2 separate regions of the Homo sapiens genome follow, and region 2 is linked to region 1. Evidence: fine-mapped expression QTL. Tissue or cell type: whole blood. Region 1 holds a variant in brackets; the other region holds the start of a gene. All regions are shown on one strand. Distances are from middle to middle.

Evidence for each region. PIP is the estimated chance that this variant, and not a neighbour inherited with it, causes the effect.
Region 2: it holds the start of GLIPR1, and the variant in region 1 is fine-mapped to the expression of GLIPR1 in whole blood (INTERVAL, PIP 0.99).

The regions. Positions count from the first base shown.
Region 1 is chr12:76,413,477-76,421,586 of GRCh38, reverse strand. The region is part of intron 4 of OSBPL8 (oxysterol binding protein like 8); the gene reads left to right. Among named protein-coding and RNA genes, the nearest start is that of BBS10, 69 kb to the right of the region's middle. The variant G/AG (reference allele first, on the strand shown) is at 3,577.
Region 2 is chr12:75,476,313-75,484,422 of GRCh38, reverse strand. GLIPR1 (GLI pathogenesis related 1) reads right to left here and starts at 3,668. Exons shown (of 6, transcript NM_006851.3): 1 at 3,369-3,668; 2 at 2,344-2,589. The coding sequence starts at 3,542. It overlaps GLIPR1-AS1 (GLIPR1 antisense RNA 1), which reads left to right. Exons shown (of 2, transcript XR_007063373.1): 2 at 1-969. RefSeq lists an enhancer at 1,351-1,400.

The sequences.
Region 1 (8,110 bases):
AATAACCTTTATTCTTGGCTTTCTGAATATTCATGTTGATAAGTGGTATATGTGTTCTTCTGAGATAGTGAAACGCCTCATAGAAAGTGTTCACCTGGGCAATTAAATAAATTATAAATTGACTGATTTCATTCTTTTCTAACAGTGTTTCACAAAAGAATTGGAAACCATAGTCCTGAACTCTCCCTAAGTAGTATAAGCTTTAAATAGCACTCAATCCATATTAAGTCTTCTTAGTGTAGCATGGTTGCTCTCATGCGTCTTTCTTATGTTTTAAATGGTGTAAATTTTAGTCGTTTGTCATTCAGAAGTGGCTTTGCAAATACAAAATACTGAGATTTTTTTAATGTTAGATATTTTTTATTTTAAAATGAGTTTCATTTCTGTATTTGTTTCTGTCTCTTTGTTTGCATTTTTTAGGCCAACAAGCTTGCTAGTATATATTGTTTGCTGACCTTCATGCCACAAGTCCACTTAGCTTTACAGAATAATCATGTGACCTTGATGAACAATAGAAAACTTAGCTTTTAAGTTTGGTACTTATTTAATTAGGCAGTTAAAGGCAAAATTGTCAGTTTATCTTGTCAAAGAAATATTAAAAGCCATCTTGGATGGATTTGTTTCTATAGAAAAGTAAATGGTTTGCTTTGTTTTCTAATTCTTGAAATAGAGAAAATCATATTCATAGGAATGATTCCATCATCTCCTTAATACAACCAGCTGTGATAAAAAGCTCTATAAAATATCTGCTTTTATCAACTAAGAAGTAGAATGGAATTAAGTACTTCAAAGAAGTGGCTTTTTGTTGTGACTTAAGGTAAAAGTAAAAAGTACATCTAATATCTCCTGATATACTTCATTGTTGTATTGAAAAAATTATTTTAGATGCATTTGCTTTTATCTGACAAAACTAGAGAAGGAAAGATTTGTTCTTCATTAGTGATATTTAAAGATAACTTTTTCTTACTGCTTTGAGCATAACCCTTTTTTAATTTTAATTTTCCTGAAAAAAATATTTTTTTCTTTTAGCCACTTCTGCCTTAATAAATACGTCAGCATAACCTTTTTCTTTATGATTAGCTATAACATGGATGTGACACCCCTGCCCCTGTACCCATAGTGATGTCATGATGCAATGTGTTTGTTTTATTTAGTTCATATCTGATTATCTATCTCTTGATCTCAGCTGTTACTTTTAGGTATGCTTGTTTTACTAATCTCTAGAACAGTACGTACAAATTGGAGTAAATAAACTTTGAACAAAGAAAGCATCTATAGACATCTATAGATTGTACATTTTAGTACATAGTTGTTTTGTATATTTTGACTTCTCAGATTTTTTTCTTGGCTCTTGGCTGTATTCAATATAGTTAATGTAGCAATTCTGTATTTATTTTGTAGATACTTATAAAATCTTTATTTGTAGATTTGTTTATGTAATTTCATTTTAATAAGACTGACGCAACATAAAATTTGCTTTATTATATCACAGTATTAATGAACCAGGTATATCAAAAAGATAACGCCTTATCAGTGATGATAGTACTTGCATTTTGTGGACAAATTAGAGGTTAAGGGCAGAATGCTAATTTATTCAGCGATAATATTCCATTGCATTAGCAGGAAAAAGTAAACCTATGTACTTACACTAGAGATTGTCTAATGTAAAATTTACTGTAGATGGGAAACTGAAGTCTCTGGAATTTAAGGAACTTACCATGGTTATATAATTACTTGATGGAAGAGTTATTATATTCACTGGAATTATTATGAGTCTGTGACTACTTCCAAAACCAAAAGATTAGAAGAAAGATATGACAGACTTTTTTCAACCAGGTTTGAATGTCATTAGTTTTTGTTTTGGGGTTGAGCTTTAGGAAATTCTTTTTTATTTGCTTTGATGGCTAAAAACATTTCTGAAACTCATTACTATGTTTTTTTCTTTTTATATGAAGAGAATATTATAGCACTGTCTTGCTTCAGTCTTAAGTACTTTATCACTTTCAAGCCTTTCCCCATTGGAGAAACTGAACCATTGGAAGTTAAGTATTGTGCCCAATGTCATACAGCTAGTAAATGGTGGCGCCAGGGTTGATAGATAGTCTGACCCCATAGCTTATTCGCAGGTATCCCTCTGCCTTTATTATAAGCAGTTATTTTACTGTATTATAATTTTTGTTTGAATACCTGGCTTCTCTTTAGACAGTAGCCTTTTTAAAAGAAAGGAATGATAGGGAACAATGTCTTTTCATGTTTTTATCCCTAAATGCAATGTGTTATGTAACAGGTAGGTACACTATAAATATTTATACTATATATATGCACTTTGTTTTTGTTCTTGTTTTTGTTTTGAGATGGAGTCTCGCTCTGTCTCCCAGGCTGGAGTGCAGTGGTGTGATCTCGGCGCACTGCAGCCTCTGCCTCCTAGGTTCAAGGGATTCACCTGCTTCCACCTCCCAACTAGCTGAGACTACAGGCATGTATCACCACGCCCAGCTAATTTTTGTATTTTTAGTAGAGACAGGGTTTCACCATGTTAGCCAGGTTGGTCTCAAATTCCTGGCCTCAAGTGATCTGCCTGCCTCAGCCTCCCAAAGTTCTGGGATTATAGGCATGAGCCATCATGCCCAGCCTAATATTTATATTTATAAGAGGTGAATCCATTATTATTTCTTAATTGATTGAAAGGATTGCCATCTGTCAATCTAAATAGTAATCATTCTGAATATCTGCTTTTTTGTTTGTTTTTGTTTTGAGATGGAGTCTCACTCTGTCGCCCAGGCTGGAGCACAGAGGCACCATCTTGGCTCACAGCAACCTCCGCCTCCTGGGGTTCAAGTGATCCTCTCACCTCAGCCTCCCAAGTAGCTGGGATTACAGGCATGTGCTACCACACCCGGCTAATTTTTGTATTTTTAGTAGAGATGGGGGTTTCACCATGTTGGCCAGGCTGGTCTCGAACTCCTGACTTCAAGTGATCTGCCCACTTCAGCCTCCCGAAGCGCTGAGATTACAGGCATGAGCCACCTCATCTGACCTGAATATGTGCTGTTGTTATAGGTTCTATAACCTTAGAAAATGTGGAAGTCAGCCTGGATGTATGTTGCAGAGTGAAAATGGAGCAAGACTACCTGGTTTCTAATCCTCACTTAGCTACTTAATGACCATTTGGAAGGAATTTGGCTTCAATAAAGTACCCCAGAGATACTCTTATTACTTTATGTAAGTTAAACAAGAGACAGAATACTTTGGAGAAAGGCTGTTAAGAAAGTAGTGAAAATCGGCCTGGCACAGTGGCTCACACCTGTAATCCCAGCACATTGGGAAGCCGAGGTGGGCAGATCACCTGAAGTCGAGAGTTCAAGACCAGCCTGACCAACATGGAGAAACCCCATCTCTACTAAAAATACAAAATGAGCTGGACGTGGTGGTGTGTGCCTATAATCCCAGCTACTCGGGAGGCTAATTGCTTGAACCCGGGAGGCGGAGGTTGTGGTGAGCTGAGATTGTGCCATTGCACAGCAGCCTGGGCAATAAGAATGAAACTCCATCTCAAAAAAAAAAAAAAAAAAAAAA[G/AG]GTAGTGAAAATCATATAATTTTCTGGAGAGAGGGTTTTCATTCCAGGTCTCTAATTATTATTACAAATAATTTTTTCAAAGTCAGCAATTAGTACACAAGTCAGAGATGGCCAGATACATAAGAAAATATGACATGAATGAGAAGTAACTGAAACAACAAACAGTAGAAAGAGGCTGGTAAGGCTTCTTGGATATTAGAGTGATCCGATACAAACTAATGTTTTTAAAGCTCTGTTTACGGTTTTTAAAAACATAAATGCAAACTTTCAAAATGGAATTATTTAAAATAGCCTGTAGATTTGTGAAATATTAGGATATAAATTTTAGAAATGAAATTAAACATAACCAAAATTTAAAACTCGGTGTACATACTAGTAGTACATTGGACATACAGATGAAGATAGAATTAGTGAAGAGGAAAGTAAGTCAGAAGAATTATTCAGGATACAGCAGGGAGGGAAAAGATGAAAAATAAAGAAGTTGAGGCATGCAGAATAAAAGGGAAAAAGCTGTCTTTTTTTGGTCATAAATAAAAGAAATAGACAAAATAGGATAAAAAGTCTTTAAGTATAATGGCTATAATTGAACTGATCAAAGATACTAACCACAAATTCTCAAGAAAACAAATTAAAAAGAAACTTAAACCTAAACACATCATAGTGAAACTACAGACCATCAAAGACAGAGGGTGAAAACACCCAGATTTCCTTCACAAGAATAACAACAGTTAAACTCACACCTGTTTGACTTCTTCACTGAAACAGTAGAAGCTACAGGTGTACTTCAGGCAAAAGGAGAGTGATTTCAGATGGAAAGTCTTAAGTTGTAAGGATAAACAAATAGCAAGGGCTATATGGGCAAATTTAATGCACACTGATTCTAAAGCCAATACAAATAATGTCTTTTGGAGTTAAGAAGAGAGAGAGATTTGCAATATATGACAGTTATTGTGTATAAGCTGGAAGGGAGGTAAATAAGTTCTTCCAAGGCCTTTGTATTTCCCAGAAGGAGAGTAAATTAATAATTAATTTTAAACTTTGAAAAGTTAAGTATACATATTTTAATTTCTGAGTGTAACCACTAAACACAATGATTAATTTATGTTTTTAAATCTTAACTAGTTTATAATAAATAGAAGACAAGATAGTAGAGGACAATAGAGTATGGGAGGAACAAATAGAAAGTCCAAAATAAGATAAATATAAATCTAGGTAAGTCAGCAATTATATTGAGTACTAATGATCTAAAGATTAGTATTAAAAATAATCCAGTACCTGCTGTTACAAGTGACATATCTACATATAAAAGAATAAAGAAAAGTTGGGGTAGGGAAGGACTAGGGATAAAAAGCAATGCAAACACTACTGAAAAGAAAGTTCCTGTATCTATTGATACCAGACAGAATAAATTTTGAGGCAAAAAGCATGAGTACATTATATGCCCTCAAAATATATAAGGAAATTTTATAGAGAACAACATGGAAACTAGATAAATCTGTACTTATATTCTTCTCTTTGTAATTGAGGGAGAAAAGGACAAAAATCAGTAAATACATATCAAAATAGAACTTCTCTACTAAGAAATGTGTGTTAATGGACAAATATAGAACTTTATACCCAACAACTATAGAATATACCTTCTTATCTAATACATATGGTATATTTATAAAAATTGCTCATATGCTGTGCCATAAAGTAAGTTTCAACAAATTTTAAATTATTAAAATTATTCAGAACATATTATCTGACCTTATTTTTTATGTTAGAAATCTATAACAAAAAGTTCAATAAAAATTCTGTTATGTTTAAAATTCAAAAATATATTTCTAAATGCCTCATGGATCAAAGAAGAAATCAAAATAGGAATTGGAAAAATAACTGACTTGAACAATTATGAAAGCATTACATATCGAAATTTGTGGAATATAGCTTTAAAATCGTGATTAAGAGGAAATGTTTAGCCTTAAGTGCATATTTTAGAAACAGAAGGGAGAAGAAAAATTAATGAGCTAAGTATCTTTCTTAAGTTCAAAAAATAAGAGCAAAATCTCCAAAAAGAAAAAAAGACTATAATAAATGTAAGACTAAGAATTAATGGAACAGAAAATACACACACTAGAGAGTTTCAGTAAAGCCTAAAATTCTTGGAAAAAGACTGATAGACAAACCTGTGGTATGATTTATTATGAAAAAGAGTGTTACTGCAAATCAGTAGACAAAAGGTGTTTTTTTAAAACCTTAACTCTGATACAATTAGCCAGTATCAAAAATAAAGAGATATAACTATAGTTGGAGCCATGTATTAAACATGTAAGAGAATATTGTGAACTTTTGTATGCTGATGTACTCAAAAGTTCAAATGAAATAAATTCTTAGTAAATATAGTTTACTGAAATTGTTCTTAAAAGAAACGGAATATCTGAATAGTCCTAATAACCATTAAGAAATTAAATCAGAGGCTGGGCATGGGCATGGTGGCTCATGCCAGTAATCTCAGGACTTTAGGAGGCCAAGGCGGGTGGATCACTTGAGGTCAGGAGTTCGAGACCGGCCTGGCCAACATGGTGAAACCCCGTCTTTACTAAAAATACAAAAATTAGCTGGGCCTGGTGGCATGCACCTGTAATCCCAGCTACTCAGGAGGCTGAGGCAGGAGAATCGCTTGAACCCGGGAGGCAGAGGTTGCAGTGAGCCGAGATCGTGCCACTGCACTCCAGCAGCCTGGGTGACAGAGCGAGACTCCATCTCAAAAAAAAAAAAGGAAAGAAAAAAAAAAGAAAAACAGAAATTAAACTAGAAAGCTCCGGATTCAGGTAGATACCGAGTTCTACCAACCGTTAAATGAAAGAATAATTCTAGTCTTGCACAACTGCTTTCAGAGGATGGAAGTGGAGAGTGAGAAGAACACTAGTATTAGTATAACTTTGACATGAAATTCAACTGAAAGAGATTGTCCTATAATTTTTCCAATCAGTAATGAATATGGATTACAACACTCCTTAATGGTAGTAGCAATATCTTTTTATAAAGAGGACAATGCGTTATGACTAAGTTGGATGAAAATCTAAGAAAGCAGGATTGACTTAACATTAGAAATAAATGTGGTTCACTACACTAACAGATTAAAAGCAGAAAAAATAATATGATTATCTTAATAGATGTGGGAAAAGTTTTGATGAAATCCAAATTTCGTTTTGTTAACTCTTAGAAAACTAGAAGGAGTGAACTTCCTTAAATATCTGTATCAGTACCTGTTCCAGCTGGACATGGTGGCTTATACCTGTAATTCCAGCACTTTGGGAGGTTGAGGTGGGAGGATTGCTTGAGCCCAGGATTTGAAGACCAGCCTGGGCAACATGATGAGACCTCATCTCAACAACAACAACAACAAAAAAGTCAGGCCTAGTGACATGTGTCTCTTGTCTCAGCTACTCAGGAGGCTGTGGTTGAAGGATTGCCTGTTACAGGAGGTCGAGGCTGCAGTGAGCTGAGATCACACCACTGCACTCCAGCCTAGGCAACAGAGCAAGACCCTGTCTCAAAAAAAAAAAAAAAAAAAACCAGAAAAATAAACCCTGTTCCTTAAATATATATATTAATATATGTACCAATATCAATATCTATATCCAAATATATATATAAATACACATATAAAAATATATCAAAAATCTACATTAAACATTGTACTTAATGGTTAAATATTGACAGTTTTGAGATTAGAAACAAGAATGCATTCACCATTTCTAGGCAATACTGTACTTTAAGTGCTAGATGAATAGAACAGATAGGGTGTGCAGAAACAGACCTACACATTTGTGAACATTTGACACATATGGATAAAAGAAGTTCTTTTCGATAAATGGTGGCAGGTCAGTTGGTGTCTAAATGCAAAGAAAGTGAAATTGTACCCGTATATCACACTGTACTCAAATGTCAATTCCAGGTGGATTGTAGATGTAGATGCAAAAAGTAAAACTACATTATTGGAAAATATTTTTATGACTGCAGATTTAGGGAAGAGTTTAAGACCCCAAAGCATTAACCTTTAAAGAAAGAGATTGCTAAATTTGACTACATGAAAATTAAAAGCTCTTCACCAAAAGAAACCACATAGCCTGTAAAAAGCCACAGAATAAGGAGATGTTGACAACAAATACATTTGGCAAAGGACTAGTATCTAGACTATATCAAGAATTCTTATATAATAAGAAAAGATAGACGATTTTTTTTTTAATGTACAAAAGGTCTGAAGACATTCTTCACAAAGAGGAAATTAGCCAATTAACATGAGAAAGTTCTCAACACCATTAGTAATCAGGGACACGCAAACTAAAACTTCACTGACAAACTACTGTGCATCCACCAGACTGCCAAAAATATTAAGAGTTTTTCAATACTGAAGTTACTACGGTTATGGAGAAAAGAGAACTTTTGCATAGTTTGGTATAAAGTTTAAGTTACACATGCTCTGTGACCCAGGATTCCTCCTTCTAGATTTAAACCTTAGAGAAACTTAGAGGTGTCTACCACGATA
Region 2 (8,110 bases), 940 kb after region 1:
ACTTATTAACCTCTCTAAGTCTGTTTATTCACCTGTGGGTAATACCATTAACATCTCCTTAATAGATTTGTGGTAATAATTGAATGAGGTCTTCAGTGTAGAGAGCTAAACACTATGCCCATTTAAAAAGTGATTGCTGCTGCTCTATCTTCCCAGCCCAGGGGGTTCTTGGACATTCTCCCCGTGATGAGTGCCCCTCTTCTGAAGTGGGGGTAGAATGTAGTGGTTTCTTAAAGAGGATCACTCATGTTAGGATCACTGAGCTTGGGTTTTAATATCTGTATGTATGGGACTGGGTTTTAGAAAATGAATTTTCTCATGACCAAAATATTAGTCCTCCTTTTTTCCCTTAGATGTAAGGGGAAATTTTACAAGTAAGCTCAGTTAATTTTGGGAGGGCCATCTGTGAAATCTCAGGCATTTATGGCATAAACTCAAATGTTCTCTTCTTTCGATTTCCTGGAATGGTGAACATGGAGTGTCTTAACTTGTGTATTGAGCATGGTTTAGGAGTCTGTTGTCAATTTTACAGTCTTTTGACCTCTATATATTTGGCATGCTGAGCTTCTTGCCATTGATCTAAAGTACCAGGCCCATTCATACACATTGTATACTTTCCACACCTTGCTGAGAATTCTCTTCCCTTTCCTTTTCATCTGAAAAATTCCCACTCAGTTTTCAAGTACCAATTCACATGTCTCCAGCAGTGTGAAGCTTTACACTTCCTTTTGGCCGGATAAGTTGCTCATTCTGTCCTCCTTGCTCACATGGCACTTTGTCAGCTTCTCTAAATTGTACTAGCCAAACACTGTCATAATCCATTTACACATAAGTCTCTCCCAAAAGGTCAATTTCTGAGGGCCAGGGACCATTTCCAGCTGTATTTCTCCTCCTTCCCTGGCTCATTCCCTATTTCTCCTCACTTCCGCTTCTCCAAGATTGTATCCCAATAAAATGTTAGCTCATAAACTATTGTCTCAGGCTCTGTTTTCCAAGAATCTGGACTAAGACATATCACTAGTGCCTGTTATAGGGTAAAAGCTTAAACACTGACTAATAAATAAATGAAAGTAGGCACCCTCAAACTGACAATTATTTCTGAGTATTTAAATACCGCAATGCATAACAGTACAAGTACCACTTGTAGGCTATCTAGATTTAGCTTTCTACTCCCCTAGGTCTTGTTGGAATCCAAGGAAACTTATTTCCTGGTTAAATTTATTTGTAAATGTAAACCAAAATTGTTAGTTTATGAAGTAAATTTAGGAGAAATTCATTTTACTCTTATAATAATTTTTTGTAACTGCACCAAACTTGGTTCATCTGTAGCACCACGAATGAGATCACAGGCTTTGTAAGGCTGAGCTGGAGTAAGGGAGGTTTTCTTACACCATGTTGTTCCTTAAAACCACCTAATGTTTCAATGTAACTGCCTTGATAGAAACGTTTTTGCCTTCATACCTCATTTCAACTGATTTTTTGTGCCCCAAAACAGTCAATTATAGGTTAAGTACCGTACGTTATTGGTTTGACAAGGATGGCCAGGAAGTGACAGTAAATAAACAAAATGTAGCCAGGACAGGAAGGCAGCGTCTGAAGACAATTATGACAGATGCTCCCTAGAGAGTTGTTTCCATCATGCTGCAAATGTGAGGTAGGGTTAGGGAGCCAGAATCAGCTTGAGTAAAAATTAAAAAAAAAAAAAAAAACTCAATGGGTGGCTCTGAATGTGGCTATTGGGACTAATAATATGGATTCTGGGGGCAGAATACCCTCAGAATGGTTCATATAAGTTTACACGTTGGCCTCTCTGTTGGCCTGGGACTGACTTTTTCTCCCTCCTTGTGTAGCACCGTGCGTGGTGCCTAGTGCATGGCACACAGTAGGTTTTCAGTCGATGTTTGAGAGAATGAGAGGTTGTGGAAGCATCAGTTCTTATTGATGTTTCTGTCTGAGAGTCTTGTTTCTTCCAATTTTATAGTCCCAAAACAATTGGCTCAAATTTCATTTAAAACTCATGCTACAGCTGGAACCTGAAAATCCTTTCACTCATAAGGTTCTTTGATTTCTCACAAATGGAATAAAGTCCTATGGGAGAATAGCTGTTACAGGAATTGTTCAAAGCCTGTCCAAGTTGGTGGGCCTCACATATTACCTATTATGTGTTTAGTTCACACAACTAAACTTTTCAAGCATTATTTTCTGTTCTTGGAGGCTGTTCTATTTAACTCCCTTATATTTACAGGTATACTAGCATACTATACATTTTCTTAACTTCATAGTACAATTTTTCTCCTCATACTTGAAAAGACAGTTTCAAGATAATATAGGGCAGATCCTTACCTGAGTGTAGTGGCCACAGACTTTTTTGCATATCCGAGTCTTGAAGTCATAGTCCTGGATTTCGTCATACCAGTTTGTGATGGCGGAAGACACAGAAAAAATGGGCACAGACCCAGTCCAGATGTTCTCTCCCAGTGAAGTGAAGTTTGGGTGCAGCTTGTGGGGTGGCTTCAGCCGTGTATTATGTGAAAACTGGCAATTGCTGGCCCATGCTTTTGCAATTTGGGCTAGTGCTGGGTCCCAAGTCTGCAAAAATAAACATTAAACAATAGGGGGTTCATCTGAAATGTAACTGGGGTGAGTACAGTGGGAATTTGAATGGAAAACGAGGTGAGATAAGGAGAGAAGATACCACTGCATATGAGTCCTCTATAAATATGGTCTTCAAGCACTGAGTAGGGCTGGTAGGAAACGTGACAATTTAGTTTCATGGAATTTAGAATCTAAGTGAGGAAAACTGACATTTCACTGAAGGCTAATTGTGGGCAAAATAGTGTGTGCCGTGTTTCACAACATTATTCCATAACCACAACAGCCCATATCCTAAGAAGTTCAGAAAGGTTAAAAACCAGCTTAAAGCCACAGATCTGAAATTCAATCCCAAGCCTTACTGAATCAAAATCCCATCCTTTCCCCAGATGCCATTCTGCCTACCTGAGCAACTCAGTACTTTGTCAGCAGCAAAAAAAGTAAATTTAGAGACAAAAAAAAAAAAAAAAAAAGAAAACCAAATCACAAAAATTAACAGGGAGGAAGATAACAAAAAGAGAAGTAAAATCCACTGAAAACCAGAAAACAGGAAGTGTCCAAAGAGAAGTAAAATGTGCTGTGGCACTTGCTTATAACAACAGTTGGGTAGACAGAGCTAAACTGGATGTGTTTTGATCACAGACTGTGAATTTACTGCATACATTAATCACAATGAAAAAAAAATCATTCAGTATTACGAAGGTATTAACACCAAAGTCAATACACATTAGTTGTTTCTGACTGACTGACGCCACAATTAATGATATTTTCCTTACCATGTATAGCATATCACTGGCTGTTGGTTTCACCTCTGATCGGAACTTGTTATGGATTCGAACGCAGTCTTTGATGAAATCTTCATTTTCGATATCTGGCAAAATATTTGCTGTGTGTGAATAATTGGAGACAAAAGAAACCATCCAGGCTATTGTAGCAAGTGTGACACGCATGCTTTGTCTGGCATGGAGCCTTGGGAGGCTGCAGTCCAGAGCCGCCGCAGTTTCTGAGAGTGTGATTGCCTGAGTGCTCAGCCCACAGCTTTGCAAACCTAGCCGACTTCAGCTTTGAGAAAACAGAACAGAGCATGAGTTCATCACTAGTTTTAAGAAACGGGTTTCTCCATATATGGTGTGCAGCTCACTTTGTGTTCTTAACCCTGTCTTTTCAGTGGTTTTCAGTGACACAGCACCTATTACGACATAGATTTTTATGAGGCTGTGTCAGACTTCCTTTTGAATTGGGAGATATTTCCAAAGAAAATTCTGAAGTCTCCAGGAATAATAGTCTCCAATTTTTAATGGAGGTTGCGGTGATAAAATGAAAATATCTCTTACTTCTATAAATGCCTCGCAAAATGCTTTCAGAAATCTTTTTCTTTTTAGAGTCATATCAACACATAGTGGTTGGAATATCTGGTTAACATCATAAACTTGACCTAGAATTCATTCACGATGGTAGAAACATGTAAGCGTGTATGTGTGTGTGTGTGTGTGTGTGTGAGAGAGAGAGAGGGAGAGAAAGAGAGAGAGAGAGAAAGAGAGAGAGGGATTGAGAGGGAGAATAGTAGAAAGAATACAGGACTCAAGTTGAGAATTTAGTTTCTGTTTCTAACTAGCTGTAAGACCTTGGACAGGATACAAAACTCTCTAAACCTCAGCCACCTATTGAATGAGACTATGGGACCTTTTCTGCTTCCTTAATTACAGAGGTTTGGCAGGATCAAATGAACTAGCTAATATTAAATTCCTGCCTTGTATATTCACCTTAGTAATACAGAAATAAAAACACAGTCACTGGCCCCAAGGAGCTTACAGTGGTAAGAGCTGTGAGATGGTGATGACAAGGATGTTACAACAGGGGCTGTTGGAGATCTGGATATAGGAAAGCACAGGTAGATATGGACACACAAGAGAGCATACTTAACCCATTCTGGAAACGGCAGAGCCGGCCTACATACAGCAGGTGAGGTCTTTGCTGAGGCTAGAATCAGCTAGGTGTTGATCAAGTGAAAAAGCGCTGGAGAGGAGAAGGGAATTAGAGGGATAGGAACTATATATCTAGTTGTGAAATTGAAGACATGGTGTTATGGCAAGAATAGAGCAAGAACCTCTCCATATTGTCTCCCTCTGTAAATATGGTCTGTAAATAAGTAGTGATTCTGACTGGTAGAAAACTTGATACCTGGTGTCATGGAATTCAGAATCCAAATGATGCTTTCATGCCACTTGGGGGAGAGAAGTTAAGAGTCAGATCAGGAAGGATTTCTCAATTCTGCTAATGATTTTTTATTTTATCACCAAAGTCATGGGAAGTTATTGGAGGATTTTAGCTGTAGGTGGGGTTTAGACCTGGTTTTAGAAAACACGTGTATTTTAGAAAATTAAGAGAGATGGAAAATGGAATGAGGTGGGGAAATATTTCTAATGCAAACAAAAAGTAAAGAAACATTCCAGGCACACCTGTAGCCCCACCTACTCAGAAAGTTGAGGTGGGAGGATAGCTTGATCCCCACAATTTGAGGCTGTGAAGAGCTATAGTCAGGTCACTGCAATCCAGCCTGGGTGACAGAGCGAGGCCCCATCATTAAAAACAAACATACGGGCCAGGCGCGGTGGCTCACGCCTGTAATCCCAGCACTTTGGGAGGCTGAGGAGGGCGGATCATCTGAGGTCAGTTGTGCAAGGCCAGCCTGACCAACATGGTGAAACCCTGTCTCTACTAGAAATACCAAAATTAGCCTGGCATGGTGGCACATGCCTGTAATCCCAGCTACTTGCGAGGCTGAGGCAGGAGAATTGCTTGAACCTGGGAGGCGGAGTTGCAGTAAACTGAGATTGTCATTGCACTCTAGCCTAGGCAACAAGAGTGAAACTCCATCTCAAAAAAGCCCAACCAACCAACCAAACAAACAAAAACCATTACAGAACCATAAGGCAGAATTACTATTGCCACACACACACAAATAACCTTAAAAATACTCATACATAAATTCAAATTTTGTCCAGGCTGCCTAATTTCTACTAGCATGTCTTTACATTATAGGAATCTGAGATAAGCAGTGTCTTATCCAGGTCTCATAGGCAACTTTTTGATCAATGTAGTGACAATAAACAAAGAGACCTTTCTCCAGTTTGAAGTGGTAACCATGTCTAAGGCCTGCTTCTCATCTTCTTCTGGGTCTCTGTGAGCTAGACTGAGTTTTGAATACAACAACAAGAAAGAGGAAACCCCACGAGCAAGCAAAATCAGTGGTTTTTTTGGTTGCTTGCGTAATCCCTGTTATACACATACAACTCCCAAGAATGAGCAATGTTATCTTGGTCTTGAAATGATTTAATATTTTTTCTCTACTTTCCTGAAAATAATCAGCAAAAGGGAAAGTCTGCCGTCACAGAGATGATTTTTGTGTTATTGTGCAGACCAGGTTAGCTCCTTAGAGCTACAACTCTAAAACTTTTCAATTCACACTACACGTTTGCACCAAAAGTCCAGAGAAGTGGTTTGCCACAGAACAGGAACTTTTACTTGGAAGCAAATGTAAGCCTGCACTGCTTAGAAGGCTTTGAACTTTGCTATGACTTTTTCCACTTCTTAACCCAAGTCTTCACCATGATCTCTTTGATAATTATGCACGTGTGTTAAGACAGAGAGATTGGTTTTTAGTGCTCATCACTCATGGTAGCATTTTAAAAGATTTTTAACTTTCTTTTTAATTCTTCTCTGTATCGTTTAATTTTTTTACAGCAAGAACATGCTATCTTTCATAGTAATAAAATAAACTGCAATTATTTTGGAGAGTCATGGGATCTTTAAAATCATGCACAAATTCATACATATACATTGCCTGATAAACCCATGCATAGATAAAAGACTAAAGGAATATCCACAATTTCAGTATTGTGGGTAATACTGCATAATGGACTATGTCTCTCTATCCCCGCAAGCTTTACTCAAGTGTCTTATAAAAAGCAACAGTTTGTGTAGCTAGAGATAATCATTTATATTATGTGGAAAAATCTCAACCTTGCTATACTGTTCTAAATATATCAATTTATATATATGATGAGCTTTTTTATTTCTTGGGGAGAAATGATATAGAATTTTCTATAATCCCACACTTCCTGATTAGATTCCAAAAACATTTAGGCTCCAAAACCTCTAGCCACCTATTCTACTGGGGCTATGTGTTGGGTGTGGGGATAGACAAAGATAAAGGATTCAGAAAGAGGGAGGGGCTATATTTATTAAGCAAACATGTCACTGTTACATTGTTGTGTGATGATACTTTAATTTGGTATAAATTAGTTTTACGTATGTGACAATGTACAAGTTAACTGTAGTCCATATTCTAGAAGCAGTTAATTAGTGCTGAAGTACTCTAACCAAGAATCCACACTCCAAAGGTGATGGTTAACACTTCAGATATGGTTATGGAAATTGATACCTGAGAGTTTGTTAATTAGAACAGGGCATGTTAGAGAATCATTTTCACTGGCAAAATGAGTAATTTTCATGGTGAATGGCTTGTGGGGAGATTGAACACAGCCTCCTGCTATTGCATGAATGAAGTATAAAGAAGCAGACATCCTCAGATCTCTATTACTGCTGGTGTAGTGTTCAAGGGAATTGCCACCTCACAAGAGGTCCCCGTTTTCTGCCTTGACTTCAAGGCTGCTAGTCTTAACTTTAGAATGTCTGTTTAGTGAGCTTACCATTGGAGCGTCTAAGAGTAGAAAGCAGGAATGTTTCTGTAATTGTTTGCTAATGAATGTTAAGACATTTAGCAAAATTTGTCCAAGACTTACTTTCATAATAGCATACTATCAGGTACTGGGTTTGTAAGGGAGGGGAACATAGCCTTTGCATAACTCAGCTCTAACTGCAAGAGGCTTCAATATTTATCAAAGGAACCTGACATTTGAGGCCATGTTAGCTTAGGTCAGTTGGCAGCAGTGATGACAAGCACCAAACCTTTTCAAATTCATTATCTCACTATGCTCTCATAATAATCTTGTGACATATATATGTGTGTATATATATGTATGTGTATACACAAAATTATTCCTATTTACAGATGAAAATATTGGGACATAAAGAGGATAAATAACTGGACCAGGGGAATGACACTAGTAAGATGTTAACTTAAGGTCTCATTGCAAATCTTGTCTGTAGTTGTTAAGAGCACAAGTTCATTAGACTGTCTGGGTTCAAATCAAATACCCTGTACTAGGTGTATGAATGGGCATTTTGTCTTTCTGTCCTTTAGTTTCCTTATCTGTAAAATAGGAATGATAATATTACCTCCTTCATTGGATTGACAAACAAATTTAAATAAGAAGTTATTTCTAAAAACAGATTAGGTAGTGCCTGACACAGGGTAAGTACTATATATACCAGCTATTATTATTATTTCTTTTCCTTTATTACTCTAGGTATGCATAAGTGCATTCCATACTGATAGGGTTTGGCTGTGTCACCACACAAATCTCATCTTGAATTGTAGCTCCCATAATTTCCG